Regions from separate parts of the Homo sapiens genome. Here region 1 is linked to region 2. Evidence: fine-mapped expression QTL. A gene starts in region 2. The other region holds a variant in brackets. All regions are shown on one strand. Distances are between the middles of the regions.

Evidence for each region. PIP is the estimated chance that this variant, and not a neighbour inherited with it, causes the effect.
Region 1: its variant is fine-mapped to the expression of WDR5B-DT in whole blood (TOPMed, PIP above 0.99). The same link has a PIP of 0.9 or more in T cells, blood mononuclear cells, lung and nasal epithelium.

What each region holds. Positions count from the first base shown.
Region 1 is chr3:122,438,555-122,447,090 of GRCh38, reverse strand. It overlaps KPNA1 (karyopherin subunit alpha 1), which reads left to right. Exons shown (of 14, transcript NM_002264.4): 10 at 4,975-5,053. WDR5B-DT (WDR5B divergent transcript) reads right to left here. Exons shown (of 3, transcript NR_125405.1): 3 at 3,844-4,364. Among named protein-coding and RNA genes, the nearest start is that of WDR5B-DT, 27 kb to the right of the region's middle. The variant C/T (reference allele first, on the strand shown) is at 4,574.
Region 2 is chr3:122,412,958-122,420,957 of GRCh38, reverse strand. WDR5B-DT (WDR5B divergent transcript) reads right to left here and starts at 4,752. Exons shown (of 3, transcript NR_125405.1): 1 at 4,708-4,752. WDR5B (WD repeat domain 5B) reads left to right here and starts at 4,896. Exons shown (of 1, transcript NM_019069.4): 1 at 4,896-8,000. The coding sequence starts at 5,430. The coding sequence ends at 6,422. RefSeq lists enhancers at 3,283-4,098, 4,202-4,401, 4,562-4,611, 4,642-4,881, 4,099-4,916 and 1 more.

The DNA.
Region 1 (8,536 bases), 26 kb before region 2:
ACCTCTGGTAGAACTTGGCTGTGAATCCATCTGGTCCTGGGCTTTTTTTGGTTGGTAGGCTATTAATTACTGCCTCAATTTCAGAGCCTGTTATTGGTCTATTCAAGGATTCAACTTCTTCCTGGTTTAGTCTTGGGAGGGTGTATGTGTCCAGGAATGTATCCATTTCTTCTAGATTTTCTAGTTTATTTGTGTAGAGGTGTTGATAGTATTCTCTGATGGTAGTTTGTATTTCTGTGGGATCGGTGGTGATATCCCCTTTATCATTTTTTATTGCATCTATTTGATTCTTTTCTCTTTTCTTTATTAGTCTTGCTAGCGGTCTATCAATTTTGTTGATCTTTTCAAAACACCAGCTCCTGGATTCATTTATTTTTTTGAAGGGTTTTTTGTGTCTGTATCTCTTTCAGTTCTGCTCTGATCTTAGTTATTTCTTGCCTTCTGCTAACTTTTGAATTTGTTTGCTCTTGCTTCTCTAGTTCTTTTAATGGTGATGTTGGGTGTTGATTTTAGATCTTTCCTGCTTTCTCTTGTGGGCATTTAGTGCTATAAATTTCCCTCTACACACTGCTTTAAATGTGTCCCAGAGATTCTGGTATGTTGTGTCTTTGTTTTCATTGGTTTCAAAGAACATCTTTATTTCTGCCTTCATTTCGTTATTTACCCAGTAGTCATTCAGGATCAGGTTGTTCAGTTTCCATGTAGTTGTGCGGTTTTGAGTGAGTTTCTTAATCCTGAGTTCTAATTTGATTGCACTCTGGTCTGAAAGACAGTTTGTTGTGATTTCTGTTCTTTTACATTTGCTGAGCAGTGTTTTACTTCCAATTATGTGGTCAGTTTTAGAATAAGTACAATGTGGTGCTGAGAAGAGTGTATATTTTGTTGATTTGGGGTGGAGAGTTCTGTAGATGTTTATTAGGTCCACTTGGTGCAGAGCTGAGTTCAAGTCCTGGATATCCTTGTTAACCTTCTGTCGTGTTGATCTGTCTAATATTGACAGTGGGGTGTTAAAGTCTCCCATTATTATTGCGTGGGAGTGTAAGTCTCTTTGTAGGTCTCCAAGGACTTGGTTTATGAATCTGGGTGCTCCTGTATTGGGTGCATATATATTTAGGATAGTTAGCTCTTCTTGTTGAATTGATCCCTTTACCATTATGTAATGGCTTTCTTTGTCTCTTTTGATCTTTGTTGGTTTAAAGTTTGTTTTATCAGAGACTAGGATTGCAACCCCTGCTTTTTTTTTGCTTTCCATGTGCTTTGTACATCTTCCTCCATCCCTTTATTTTGAGCCTATGTGTGTCTCTGCACGTGAGATGGGTCTCCTGAATATAGCACACTGATGGGTCTTGACTCTTTATCCAATTTGCCAGTCTGTGTCTTTTAATTGGGGCATTTAACCCATTTACAATTAAGGTTATTATTGTTATGTGTGAATTTCATTTTATCATTATGATGTTAGCTGGTTAATTTGCCCGTTAACTGATGCAGTTTCTTCCCAGCATTGATGGTCTTTACAATTTGGCATGTTTTTGCAGTGGCTGGTACCGGTTGTTCCTTTCCATGTTTAGTGCTTCCTTCAGGAGCTCTTGCAAGGCAGGCCTGGTGGTGACAAACTCTGTCAGCATTTGCTTGTCTGTAAAGGATTTTATTTCTCCTTCACTTATGAAGCTTAGTTTGGCTGGATATGACATTCTTGGTTGAAAACTCTTTTGAAAACTCTTCTTTTTACTCTTTTTTCTCTAATCTTGTCTTCACACTTTATTTCATTAATTTGATCTTCAGTCACTGATATCCTTTCTTCCACTTGATTGAATCGGCTATTGAAGCTTGTGCATACGTCACGAAGTTCTTGTGCCATGGTTTTCAGCTCCATCAGGTCTTTTAAGCTCTTCTCTACACTGTTTATTCTAGTTAGCCGTTGGTCTAACCTTTGTTCAAGGTTTTTAGCTTCCTTGCAATGGGTTAGAACATGCTCCTTTAGCCCAGAGAAGTTAGTTATTACCGACCTTCTGAAGCCTACTTCTGTCAACTCGTCAAAGTTATTCTCCGTCCAGCTTTGTTCTGTTGCTGGCGAGAAGCTGCGATCTTTTGGAGGAAAACAGGCGCTCTGGTTTTTAGAATTTTCAGCTTTTCTGCTCTGGTTTCTCCCCATCTTTGTGGTTTTATCTACCTTTGGTCTTCGATATTGGTGACCTACAGATGAGGTTTTGGTGTGGGTGTCCTTTTTGTTGATGTTGATGCTATTCCTTTCTGCTTATTCGTTTTCCTTCTAACAGTCAGTTCCCTCAGCTGCAGGTCTGTTGGAGTTTGCTGGAGGTCCACTCCAGACCCTGTTTTCCTGGATTACCAGCAGAGGCCACAGAACAGCAAATATTGCAGAACAGCAAATATTGCTGCCTGATATTTTCTCTGGAAGCTTCGTCCCAGAGGGGCACCCGCCTGTATGAGGTGTCTCTCGGCCCCTACTTGGAGGTGTCTCCCAGTTAGGCAGGAAGTCAGGGACCCTGAATGGAAGGACCGGCTGAAGCCATGGCAGAAGGACATAAATTGTAAAGATTTCATGGACATTTATTAGTTCCCCAAATTAATACTTTTATAATTTCTTACGCGTGTCTACTGCAGTCTCTGAACATAAATCGTGAAGATTTCATGGACATTTATCACTTCCCCAGTCAATACTCTTATAATTTCCTATGCCTGTCTTTAATCTCTTAATCCTGTCATCTTCATAAGCTGAGGATGTATGTTGCCTCAGGGTCCTGTGATGATTGCATTATGTGTACAAATTGTTTGTGAAAGGTGTGTTTGAACAGTATGAAATCTGGGCATTCTAAAAGAACAAGATAACAGTGATTTTCAGGGAACAAGGGAGATAACCATAAGGTCTGACTGCCTGCGGGGCTGGGCAGAACAGAATCATATTTCTCTTCTTGCAAAAGCGAATAGGAGAAATAGCGCTCAGTTCTTTTTCTCAGCAAGGAACAGCCCTGGGAAAAGAATGCATTCCCAGGGGGCGGCCTCTAAAATGGCCGCTCTGGGAGTGTCTGTCTTTTGCAGTTGAAGATAAGGCATAAAATACGCCCTGGTCTCCTTCAGTGCCCTCAGGCTTGCTAGGATTAGGAAATTCCAGCCTGGCGAATTCTAGTCAGACCGGTTTTCTGCTCTAGAAAACACTGTTTCTTGTTAAGATGTTTATCAGTGACAATGGGTGTACAGTGGGACATGAAACCTCATCAGCAGTTCTAATCTCACCCTGGCCTTGTGATCTTGCTCTGCCCCCATTTTCCTTGTGATATTTTATTGCCTTTTGAAGCATGTGATCTCTGTGACCCACACCCTATTCGTACACTCCCTCCCCTTTGAAAATCGCTAATAAAATATTGCTGGTTTTGTGGCTTGGGAGCATCACGGAACCTGCCGACATGTGATGTCACCCCCGGAGACTCAGGTGTAAAATTTCTCTCTTTTGTACTCTTTCTCTTTATTTCTTAGACTGGCCAACACTTAGAGAAAATAGAAAAGAACCTACATTGAAATATTGGGGGCTGGTTCCCCCAATAGGCTACACGGGGTTCAGGGACCCACTTGAGGAGGTAGTCTGTCCATTCTCAGAGCTCAAACACCATGCTGGGAGAACCACTGCTCTCTTCAGAGCTGTCAGACAGGGACGTTTACATCTGTAGAAGTTGTCTGCTGCCTTTTGTTCAGCCTATGCCCTGCCCCCAGAGGTGGAGTGTATAGAGATAGTAGGCCTTGCTGAGGTGCGGTGGGATCCACCCATTTCGAGCTTTCTGGCTGCTTTGTTTACCTACTCAAGCCCCAGCAATGGCAGACGCCCCTCCCCCCGCCAGGCTGCAGCCTTGCAGGTCGATCTCCAGCTGCTGCGCTAGCAGTGAGCAAGGCTGCATGGGCATGGGACCCGCTGAGCCAGGCATGGGAGAGCAATCTCCTCGTCTGCCATTTGCTAAGACTGTGGGAAAAGCACAGTGTTTGGGCGGGGTGTACTGATTTTCCATGTACAGTCTGTCACAGCTTCCCTTGGCTAGGAAAGGAAAATCCCCCGACCCATTGTGCTTCCTGGGTGAGGCGACGCCCTGTCATGCTTCACCTTGCCCTCCGTGGGCTGCACCCACTGTCCAACCAGTCCCAGTGAGATGAATCAGGTACCTCAGTTGGTGATGCAGAAATCACCCGTCTTCTGCGTCGATCACTCTGGGAGCTGCAGACCAGAGCTGTTCCTATTCAGCTATCTTGGAACGGAACCCAGCCATTTCTTTTTAATCATCACATGTTAAATTTGAAGGAACTGGCTTAGTTTTTAGAAGAGTGATCGGTCTCATTAAAGTGGAGGGAAAAATAGGACCCTTAAGGAAAATCAAAAGATAGTGACTTAATTTAGCTAGAAATAAGGACTTAATATCTGTCTTCAAATATATATATATGGCTTTGTGGAGTGGTTTTTGGACCAGTAAGGCAGCTTATTTAGTAAGTTTAGTTGAAAGACCTTTGTATTTAGAGTGTGACTCCTGACTTGCATTTTCAAGTTAGTTCAGCTGTTGATGTGTCACTTTTA[C/T]GTCTGAAAATTAAGACAATTTATAAAACTTAAAAATGTTGCGTAAATGTTAATTATTGCTCTCAATTATCTCAGCAACCATACAAAAGCCAGTAAAGAGGAAATGAAACCTATACTAAAGAATGAGAGGGAAAAGTTGGAATCCAGGTGATGGAATACCTGGGAAAGATTCCTAGGAAAGATTGGTAGTTTTTTCCAAATGTACTAAAATAAGGGGAAAGACAGTTCTAGGGAACACCAGACATTCCATCATCATGATAAGCGTTCCCTTAATTAGCCCCATGGGTACATTTCTGCTCTAAAATTCTATCACAATTTTTTTGTTTTTTAATTTTGGTCTTGGAAGGAAATGAAACTAAGGATAGAACTGTTTGCTATAACATTACTTTTTGTTTTTGCAGGCATAATGATTATAAAGTGGTTTCTCCTGCTTTGCGAGCTGTGGGAAACATTGTCACAGGGGATGATATTCAGACACAGGTATGAAGAAGTGGTAACTTTTTTTTGTCCTTTAAAAACAGTATATTGAACTTCATGATCATGTTTCTATTATCGTATTTTACTCCATATTATTAGGGAAACTTGATACTCTGTTACACTAATGTTTAAAAATGTTGGGCCGGGGGCGGTCACTCACGCCTGTAATCCCAGCACTTTGGGAGACTGAGGCGGACGGATTGCCTGAGCTCAGGAGTTCGACACCAGCCTGGGCAACATGGTGAAACCTCATCTCTACTAAAAATACAAAAAATTAGCCGGGCGTGGTTGCACACGCCTGTAGTTCCAGCTACTTGGAGGCTGAGGTAGAAGAATCGCTTGAACCCAGGAGGTAGAGGTTGCAGTGAGCCGAGATCGCACCACTGCACTCCAGCCTGGGCAACAGAGTGAGACTCCAGCTCAAAGAAAAAAAAAAAAGTTGGTTTAGGCATCTACTCTCAATACCTTTAGTATCTCTGACTTGACCTGTTGCTTGTAGTAGTTTGGGGTTGTCCTATGATAGTGACTATTTTTTGGTCAGGCAGATTTGTTTTTCTTCACTCCTATTTGAAATAGTTCTCATGGGCATCAGAATCCTCTAGTAGCATCTTTTCTCTGTCTTTTTCATCTCAATATCACCTTCTCTGATAGCTTTCTCCTTTTGTACATGGTAAGTCCCCTGTGTGAGGAAGATTCTTCCCTCCTACTTTCTAATGTCACCATCTACTCTATTCAACTTCTGTATCAAGACACACCATTCACAGTGCATTGTTCTAGCCATATTTCTTCCTGAAATCTCAGCTGTGTTGTGATGTTGAAGTCTTTTAGTTCTTCTGCCTCATCGACCATTTATTTCTCCCTAGCAAGCTCCTTTTCCTCTTGTCTCCTTTTGTGGACATCTTCCACGGGGCAATCCTTCTGCCTCATTCATAGATCTTATTTATAATGTCAGTGATTACCCTTGTGTGCATGGATTCAGAATTGGGAATTGGGTTTTAGCCTTAGCGTTTTCTTCACCAGTTCTGACTTTCAGCAATACATTTAATGCCTTTTCTAATCTCTAAAATTAAGGAGATTAGATTTGTTCTCTCAGGTGTCTTCTAACTGTAATGTATTTACTTTAAATATATTCTGTACACAAGGGAACTCATTTCCCCTTGCATTACCTGAACCTCTGCTTATGTTCCCTGTATCAGTGAATGGCACCATCAGTTCCCCTGAAACCTGGACATCAGCTTGATTCTTTCCTCTCCTCCAACTCCATCATCAGTTACTAAGTCCTGTTGTTCTGTCTCTATTCATCCTTTGCAGGGCTTAGTTCAGACACTTCAGAAGAGAATAGGAGAAGAAAAGAATATATGTTTGACTATATTTGCATAAAATTTCTCTGGAAGGATATACAGGGAACTGAAAATGTTGGTTGTCTTTGAGGGGAACTGGTTGGCTGGGATACAAGAAGGGGAAAGAGGCTTTTAACAACTATGGAGTCTTTTATACCCTCTGAATTTTTGAACCCTATCAGTATCTTTCTGTCCCTCACCCACCTCCATATGCTGTATGCTTTTGCCATATTTGTTCCTTGAATTGGCTGTGGCCACTCTCAGCTCAGAGTTTTAACGCATGCTTTATTCCCTCTGCCTGGAACATGTGTCTCCACTGCTACCCCTTGCTCTGACTGCCACCTCACACATATCCACATTCTCTGCTCCTAATGTTTTCTTGTTCTTCAAGTCTTGGTATTAACATTATTTTCTCTGAGAAGCCCTGTTTGACCCTAAACTCTTAAGTTAGGTACTTATTTTTTTTTCTTTATCCATCAGAATATTAATCACATTGTATTGTAACTAATTACTAGATTTTAAGATTCTAGAGGTGGATTATGTCAGTGTTTATTTCTGTGCCTCTGTAAATCTAATAATTTCTGGCACAATATATAGGGACTTAAAGAATATTTATTGAATGCAATGAAGTTCTGAATCTCTACATCTACTTCTGACCTATCTCAAGTTTCAGTCCTATATCTGCAGTAGTTTCTTACATATTTCTGCTTGCATATCTCACGTTTGTCTCACAGTATATCTTCTTTCCCCCACAAGGCAAGTTCCAAGTTTTTATTTTTCCTATTTCAGGTAATGATATAACTATTCTCTTTACCTACACATGAAACTTTGCAGTTACATGTGGTGTCTCCCTCCCTTATAGTTTGTATAGCAAGTTGCTGGGTCTTCTTGATTGTTATTGTTACTAGATCCCCATCAAATTACGTACTTTTGGTCCTTGTCACACACACAGGTTGTTGCTGTACCCATCCATCCTCCGACTGTCCTAAGCAGTTACTCTTCTCAATTTATTCCCCCTAATAACAGCTGAATCTTTCCTAAAGTAATGTTATTTGCATTATCTTCCTCTAGAAATAATAAGCTGCTTTAGTGCCTGTAAGATAAAGAAACTTGAAAGATTCAAAGGAATTTCTCCTTAAGATTTTAGTCTCATTCTTCTTTCTAGCCTATTATTTTTGGGGCATAGAACTCTTTTGTAATAGCCTCATCATGGCCAGGTATGCTGGCTCATGCTTGTATTCCTAGCTTTTTGAGAGGCTGAGGTGAGAGAATTGCCTGAGCCCAGGAGTTCCAAACCAGCCCATGCAATATAGCAAGACCCCATCTCTAAAAACATTTTTTTTTAATTAGCTGAGCATGATGGAATGTAACTGTAGTCCTACCTACTCTACTCAGGAGGCTGAGGCAGGAGGATTGCTTGCACCCAGGAGTTTGAGGTTGCAGTGAGCTATGATCATGCCACCACACTCCAGCCTTAGTGATAGAACGAGACTATGTTTCTTAAAATAAAATAGCCTCAGTAGTCTGTTCTTACAGTACTTTGTAATAGCTTGTCTCTGCATTTTTTCATTTCTAGCTTATGTGCAGTGTCAGTCCCTCTTTTTGCTAATGAAATCCTATTGCCTATTTAATAGGCATAAAAGACTTCATTTTAATTTGCATTTCTTTCATTACTTAGGAGATAATTTTCTATTAAAATTTTAGTTTCTCTTTTCAGTTTACACATAGCAACCCTCTCATTTGTTGCAAATATTTTTCACAGTGGATGGTGTACATTTAAAATCTGTTACGATTTTTGACATGAAAACATGTTTCATGAAATTTTTATTTTCCCCTATAATTTCTTTATTTTTATGCTCATACATACAGTCTTTTACCATCCCCAAGTCAGCTATTTTCTAATATTCTGCTTTATGATTTCTTTTAAAAATATTTACTCTTAAGTAGTTGCAAATTTATTTTGGTGACTTAGGGTTTATATTAGTCTGTTATTTCATTGCTATAAAGAAATACCTGGCCGAGCGTGGTGGCTCCTGCCTGTAATCCCAGCACTTTGGGAGGCTGAGGTAGGTGGATCACATGAGGTCGGGAGTTCAAGACCAGCCTGACCAACATGGAGAAACCCTGTCTCTACTAAAAATACAAA
Region 2 (8,000 bases):
TAGCCAGCCATCGTACCACAAGCTTGCAATCCCAGCTACTCAAGAAGTCGAGGCAGGAGAATCGCTTGAATCCGGGAGGTGGAGGTTGCAGTGAGCCAAGATTGCACCACTGCACTCCAACCTGGCTGACAGAGCAAGACTCCATCTCAAAAAAAAAAAAAAAAAAAAAAAAAAAAATCACTGGGTTTACAAGTTTATTAAAGATAGCTTGAATGATTGTTGCCCCATTTCACTTGCATTTTGAAGGAGTCATTGTTTTCTCTAATTTTAAATTAATATACAGTCATTTCTGTGTTTTTTTGCAGAAAGTAAAATTACTCATTCTTATTCATATCCACTTAACCTGCAGAAGGCCAATGTAGTCCGCTGGGAGTCCTCAATAAGGATCACTGCTTTACCCATCACTTGGGCTGGGCATTATTAAGATACAGTGATGGGTAAGGAGAAAACAGAAACGCAAAAGACCGTAATGGGTGGTGAGAGAACAGTACCAGGTTTGGGAGAGACCTGCGCAGGCTGAGGTGTAAACTACCAGAGTGTGAAATGGTTGCAAGATTAAGTTACGATTATGAGGAGTGTCCTCTTGGGAAGTCAAAAGTAGTGTCTGCTGGGCACAGCCCCAGTTTACATTTGGAGATCAGCTAACACCTGTGAATTATTTTACTGCCCCCTTTCACTTTTAAAAATGTCCCAGTTTAGATAATGTTACGTGGCCACTCCATATTTATAAAGCCCAACTAGATTTTCATACATTGGCTAATGGTCTTAAGCAACTAGGTATACATAGTTCTATTAATGCTTGATATTGAGACTGGATTTGGTAGTCAAGAATTGCTATGAAGGATGTTGAGACATTCCTTAATGTGGGAATCACTCCCATGCCACGGTTTGGTCCAGCACACATACAAAAAAAAAATTGTTTTTAAATTTAAAAATTGCCCCATTTGTGGCAACACATCTGTTTAGATATTTACAATACTGAGGGGCAAGGGAAACACACCTTTAAACTATATTAAGATAAGAGACTTTCATTTCTTTTTTTTTTTTTTTTTTTTTTTTTTTTTTGAGACGGAGTCTCGCTCTGTCGCCCAGGCCGGACTGCGGACTGCAGTGGCGCAATCTCGGCTCACTGCAAGCTCCGCTTCCCGGGTTCACGCCATTCTCCTGCCTCAGCCTCCCGAGTAGCTGGGACTACAGGCGCCCGCCACCGCGCCCGGCTAATTTTTTGTATTTTTAGTAGAGACGGGGTTTCACCTTGTTAGCCAGGATGGTCTCGATCTCTTGACCTCATGATCCACCCGCCTCGGCCTCCCAAAGTGCTGGGATTACAGGCGTGAGCCACCGCGCCCGGCCTTCATTTCTAAGATGTCTGGGAAATTTAAAGAAATCTAGTTGATTTCTGTAGGGAGGAAACTTCCAAAGCACTTAGATGGTAAAGATTAAGGGCAGCAGAAATAGAAACTGTTAATGAGACCATGTAAGAAATTTTGCTTGGTCAACCCGGGCAATGTAGTGAAACTCTGTCTCTACAAAGGGTTGTTGTTGTTTTTTTTTTTTTTGAGATGAAGTCTCGCTCTTGTCCCTCAGGCTAGAGTGTGATGGCACAATCTCGGCTCACTGCAACCTCCGCCTCCTGGGTTCAAGCGATTCTCCTGCCTCAGCCCCCTGAGTAGCTGGGATTACAGGCGCCTGCCACCACGCCCGGCTAATTTTTGTATTTTTAGTTGAGAAGGGGCTTCACCATGTTGGCCAGGCTGGTCTAGAACTCCTGACCTCAGGTGATCCACCCGCCTCGGCCTCGCAAAGTGCTGGGATTACAGGCGTGAGCCATAGTGCCCAGCCAACAAGGTATTTTAAAAAGTAGCCGGGCATGGTGGCGGGTGCCTGTGGGAGGCTGAGGTGGGAGGATCGCCTGAGCCCTGGCAACGCTGCAGTGAACTGAGATGGCACCACTGCACTCCAGCCTGGGCGACAAGGGCAAAACTCCGTCTCATAAATAAATTAATAAGTAAATAAGAAACCCAAAATGCGTATCTCTTATTCTGCCACTTTGGATTTACCTACATGTATCAGTATTCAGCAAAACTCCGTCTCATAAATGAATAAATAAGGAACCCAAAATGCAAATCTCTGTTCTGCCACTTCGGATTTACCTGTATCAGTATTCCGTGCTCCTGCACCGAAATGTCGCTGATCCTCCCAAGCAAGTAAACTGAAAATCTTAGTTCTAATTTCCTAAGGACTACAATGTTAGGACTACATGTTAATATCAGAACATGAATGAATAAACAATAGAACATAACTAGTTATATTCGCCAGGCGCGGTGGCTCACGCTTGTAATCCCAGCACTTTGGGAGGCCGAGGCGGGCGGATCACCTGAGGTCGGGAGTTCAAGACCAGCCTGGCCAACATGGAGAAACCCTGACTCTACTAAAAATACAAAATTAGCCGGGCATGGTGGCGCATGCCTGTAATCCCAGTTACCCGGGAGGCTGAGGCAGGAGAATCGCTTGAACCAGGGAGATGGAGATTGCAGTGAGCTGAGATCGCGCCACTGCACTCCAGCCTGGGCAACAAGAGCGAAACTCTGTCTCAAAAAAAAAAAAAACTAGTTATATTCATAGCCTTGATTTTGTTTGCATATGTTCCTAATGCTATTTGTAAACAAATCCCAGACATCAAGAAATGGATTTTGTTAATAGGAATTTCTTCAGATTTTAGGAAAATCTGAAGAAAAATAACTTCCGGATCTTCCTATCAACACATCCTTTATTGTGTCCCCCCCTCTCTCTTGCTTGTGATAGCTGTGGTGGGCTAAATATATTCCAGCACTAATACCCTATCCTAGCCTTCATGTCAAGTGTTCACGATTCTTAAATTTTACTCTTCTAGTGCATACAACAGTTACTGGAAAATGCAGATTTAAATTATTTGAAACAATGATTAAATTCTGCTCCTGTGCTCCAAGGGGCTTTTACGTTACCTTTTATTGAGTTAATAAAAATGGAAATAGTTTTCAATTGGTGCAGTTTCTAAACTTCTCAGCAAAAATCACTAATCCAGGCTAATGGGAAGAGAAAAGCAGCAGCAGGGTTTAGTTAGAACTGAACTTTAAGATATGCTGAAGGAAAAAAAATTTCTAAAAGTGTTAACAAGGGGAGGTCCATGGAGACCTTAATAGCTAAAAACCGTTGTAATTTAATGTATAGAAATAAATACTCTAAACCATTTTAGAGTCTTCATTCTCAGGACTACCTCACTGTGTTTATACAGTTAATATGCACTAGCTAAGACTAAAGTATTTGTCCAATTCTTATTTAAATTTCCCCCTAGACTGGTAGGGTCTTAAAGTAATGATATTTTAACTACAGTCGGTTTATTACAGGTGACCTAACGGTGCCTGTTGTGCCTTATAAAGGCCAAGACTTTCAATTATCCCTAATAAGTATACAATAGGATACCCATTGTTTCCAAGTGCTTTTAAATTCTTGACGCTGATGAGACATTTGCATCGTGACCAGCCACCAGTAAAATCTTTTAAGCCACGTTTTTTCTGCTTTTCTTGGGCACTCTTTTTTTTTTTTTTTTTGAGACGGAGTCTCACTGTTGCCCAGGCTGGAGTGCACTGGTGGAATCTCAGCTTACTGCACCCTCCACCTCCTGGTTCATGCCATTCTCCCACCTCAGCCTCCTGAGTAGCTGGGACTACAGGCGTGCGCCATCACGCGCAGCTAATTTTTGTATTTTTAGCAGTATTGGTTGCGCCATGTTGGTCAGGCTGGTCTCGGACACCCGACCTAAAGTGTCCCGCCCGACTGGGCCTCCCAAAGTGCTGGGATTACAGGCGTGAGTGCTCGGCCTCGGGCACTCTTTACTGAGCAACAACAGGTTGGAGAAACTAGTAGGGCTTCCAGTTTTTTGGTAAACCTATTGTTTAAAAGTCTGCCTGGTCATCAGATTCCAGTCGTCTTGTTTCTGCCTCAGATGATAAAACTCTAAAATTATAGGATGTGAGATCTGGAAAATGTTTGAAAACACTAAAGGGGCACAGTAATTATGTCTTTCGTTGCAACTTCAATAGCATGTATATTTTACACACTTTCATGACCATTAATCATCTCCTAAAACTGGGGAAAGCTCTCTAAAACCTCCTTAAGAGTAACCTTATCCGTTACCCTATTCCACCAACCTCTTTGTCCTTTTCTGTTTCAAGCAACTTTGAGATACCGACTTCTCTATGGAAGCTTAAGCCGTAGATGCTAAAACAAACGTTTGCTCGTTACTCCCAGCAGAGCACCGGCTTTTAAAGGACCTCAACAGACACGTTTCTTAACCTTTACGAAACTTTTCCAGGGGAAACTTAAACCAGGAATTTTACAATCTGGCATAAATTCTGTCACCCGCCCCGTGACTCCATCGCCACACATGCCACCTGGCTCCACACCACAACAAACAGGAGGGAGCGGAACCCATGCAAAGCAGGAGCTTCCCCCGTTTCCGGCGTCTGGGTGGATCTACGTTAGCTGCCGTTTAGGCAGCTTACGCGTCAGGTGTGGGCCTAAGCCTGCAGCTAAGGTAGGCATCCGCAAATCTAGTCCTTCTCTGTGACAATTTCCAAAAAGAAATGGTTTTTGAAACAACGATCCACTGCTTCCCACACTATCCAGTTAGGTCCGGGACAGACCCTACCCAGCTAATGCACTCACCCAAGAAGGCAGTCGCTTTCGCATTTGAAGGGCGGGGCGAAAAAGACCGGAAATGAACATTGGCGACTTTTTTGCGCAGGCGCAGATGGCCGTCTCCCATTGGTCATCTCGGCTCGGTAGTGGTAGGAGGGACTTCCTTTGCACATGCGCCAGGCTGCTTTTCCGGCTTTGTTGGAGATTGACGCGGCAGTGCACACCTGCTGGTACGAGCAAAAGTAGCCGACAGGCCAGAGTTTCCAGTTTCGGTGGCTTCGTAGGCTTTTAGCTTCTGAAATCCGCTAAAAGCGGCGGTTCATTCATCTTCAAGTACCTAGCCTGACTGGTAGGGCTGCTCAGCATTCCGAAACATTTCGACCTGGGGAGGGGGGCGGCGGTGAAAGAATACTTTCTGTAGAGAGTGCCCCTCGCGTCGCCCCTGCTTTGAAGGCTTTATGTATTAACGGAATGCCGAACATTTGTGTCCTACTTGCTGACAGCGCACAGGATCCTTCTAACAGTATTTCTCAAGTACTTAACAAAAAGATGAAAACTTGAAGTCCAAGCCGTGCTGCTGATTCCGTCTCACAGTTTAAAGACTGTCCAGAAACTTTAAGCTTTCAAAACTGTACATTTTAAAATCCTGTGCGTTTATCTTCATTTTGCTGGGCAGAAAGCCAAAGTACTGGACTGCCTGGTTCAGGGCTGAACGCCTAGTACACCTGCTAACTTGGAGCTTCAGAGCCATGGCAACCAAGGAGTCAAGAGACGCCAAAGCACAGTTGGCCCTCTCCTCATCGGCCAATCAGAGCAAGGAAGTGCCTGAAAACCCAAACTATGCTCTCAAATGTACTCTTGTGGGACACACGGAAGCAGTGTCATCAGTTAAGTTTAGTCCTAATGGAGAATGGCTAGCAAGTTCTTCTGCTGATAGGCTAATCATAATTTGGGGAGCATATGATGGAAAATATGAGAAAACACTCTATGGTCATAATTTGGAAATATCGGATGTTGCCTGGTCATCAGATTCCAGTCGTCTTGTTTCTGCCTCAGATGATAAAACTCTAAAATTATGGGATGTGAGATCTGGAAAATGTTTGAAAACACTGAAGGGGCACAGTAATTATGTCTTTTGTTGTAACTTCAATCCGCCATCCAACCTTATAATCTCGGGATCTTTTGATGAGACTGTAAAAATATGGGAGGTGAAAACAGGAAAGTGTCTCAAGACTTTGTCTGCTCATTCTGACCCAGTTTCTGCTGTTCATTTTAATTGTAGTGGGTCCTTGATAGTGTCAGGTAGCTATGATGGCCTCTGTAGAATCTGGGATGCTGCATCAGGTCAGTGTTTAAAAACGCTCGTTGATGACGATAACCCTCCTGTCTCTTTTGTAAAATTTTCTCCAAATGGTAAATACATTCTCACTGCAACTTTGGACAACACTCTTAAACTATGGGATTATAGCAGAGGCAGGTGCCTGAAAACATACACTGGTCATAAGAATGAGAAATATTGCATATTTGCCAATTTTTCAGTTACTGGTGGAAAGTGGATTGTGTCTGGTTCCGAGGATAACCTGGTTTACATTTGGAACCTTCAGACTAAAGAGATTGTGCAGAAATTACAAGGCCATACAGATGTTGTGATCTCAGCAGCTTGTCATCCTACAGAAAACCTCATCGCATCAGCAGCATTAGAAAATGACAAAACAATTAAACTGTGGATGAGTAACCACTAATCCCTTTGAAAATCAAGTAGTAGAGCCAAGTTGGCCAAAAAACTTGGATATTTAAAAAGACGGTTTCTTTTAATTTTGGCAGTTTGGTATTTTAAAAATTGTCTATTGTTAAATTTTGAGATTCATACACTACATTTACAAAATGAGATAGTTGAAAAAGCACATCTAGAATTCAGCTTCTGACTACCAATCTTTTTTGAGCAACTTTTTGTAATTTTTATGGATTTATGTCACTTTTATTACAGGGATATATTGCATAGTGGTGAAATCTGGGCTTAGTATACCCTCACCCAAATAGTATACATTGTACCTAGTAAATACTTTCCCATCTCTCACCCCACTCCCACCTTTGAAGGCTCTAGTGTCTATGATTCTGCTCTCCACGTCCAGGTGTACACATTGTTTATCTCCCACTTACGAGAACATGTGGTTTTTGACTTTCTGTATCATTACTTCACTTAATGGCCTCCAGGTCCATCCATGTTGTTGCAAAAGATAAGATTTCATTATTTTTTTTTGGCTGAGTAGTATTCTGTGGTGTGTATGTGTGTGTGTGTATGCATATATGTGTATGTGTATGTATATAAGTATATACACCACATTATCCAGTCATCTGGATATGTATATAAGTATATACACCACATTTTCTTTATCCAGTCATCTCTTGATGGACCCTTAGGTTGGTTCCATAACTTTGCTATTACGAATAGTGCTGCGATAAACAGCACTATTATGAATAGTGCTGCGATAAACAGTGCAGGTGATTTTAAAATATAATTTCCTTTGGGTAGATACCTACTAGTGGGATTGCTGGATCGAATGGTAGTTTTTAGTTGGAAAATCTCCATACTGTTTTCCAGAGGTTGTAAAATGTACATTCCTCCCCACAGTGTATAAGCTGTGCCTTTACTCTGCATCTTTGCCATGATTCTTTTTGAGACAGAGTCTCTGGTGCCCAGGCTGGAGTGCAGTGGCACAATCTTGGCTCACTGCAACCTCTGCCTCCCGGGTTCAAGCAGTTCTCATGTCTCAACATCCCAGGTAGCTAGGATTACAGGCGTGCCACCATGCCTGGCTAATGTTTCTATTTTTAGTAGAGACAGGGTTTCACCATGTTCGAGGCTGGTCTTGAACTCCTGGCCTCAAGTGATCCACCTGCCTCGGCCTCCCAAAGTGCTGGGATTACAGGCATGAGCCACTGTACCCAGCCATTTTTTGACTTTTTAATAATAGCCATTCTAACTGGTTTAAGAGAGTATCTCATTGTGGTTATATTTTGTATTCCTCTGATGATTAGTGATGTTGAGCATTTTTTTGTGTGTGTTTGTTGGCCACTTGTATGTCTTCTTTGAAAACTGACTTCTAATCTTGAGGCCTATTAATAATTTCATTTGTCTGTCACTGGACAATTTCTCATTCCTCTCAGTGACTATCCTAGAGGATCAGTGTATTTGAGAAATATTTAGAAGTAAAGTTGACAGGACAGGATGATTGATTAAAAGAGGGGAGCAAGGGAATTTGAAATAATTCCAGGGTTTCTGGTTTGGGAGATCAGATGAACAAGTGCATAAGCCTGGG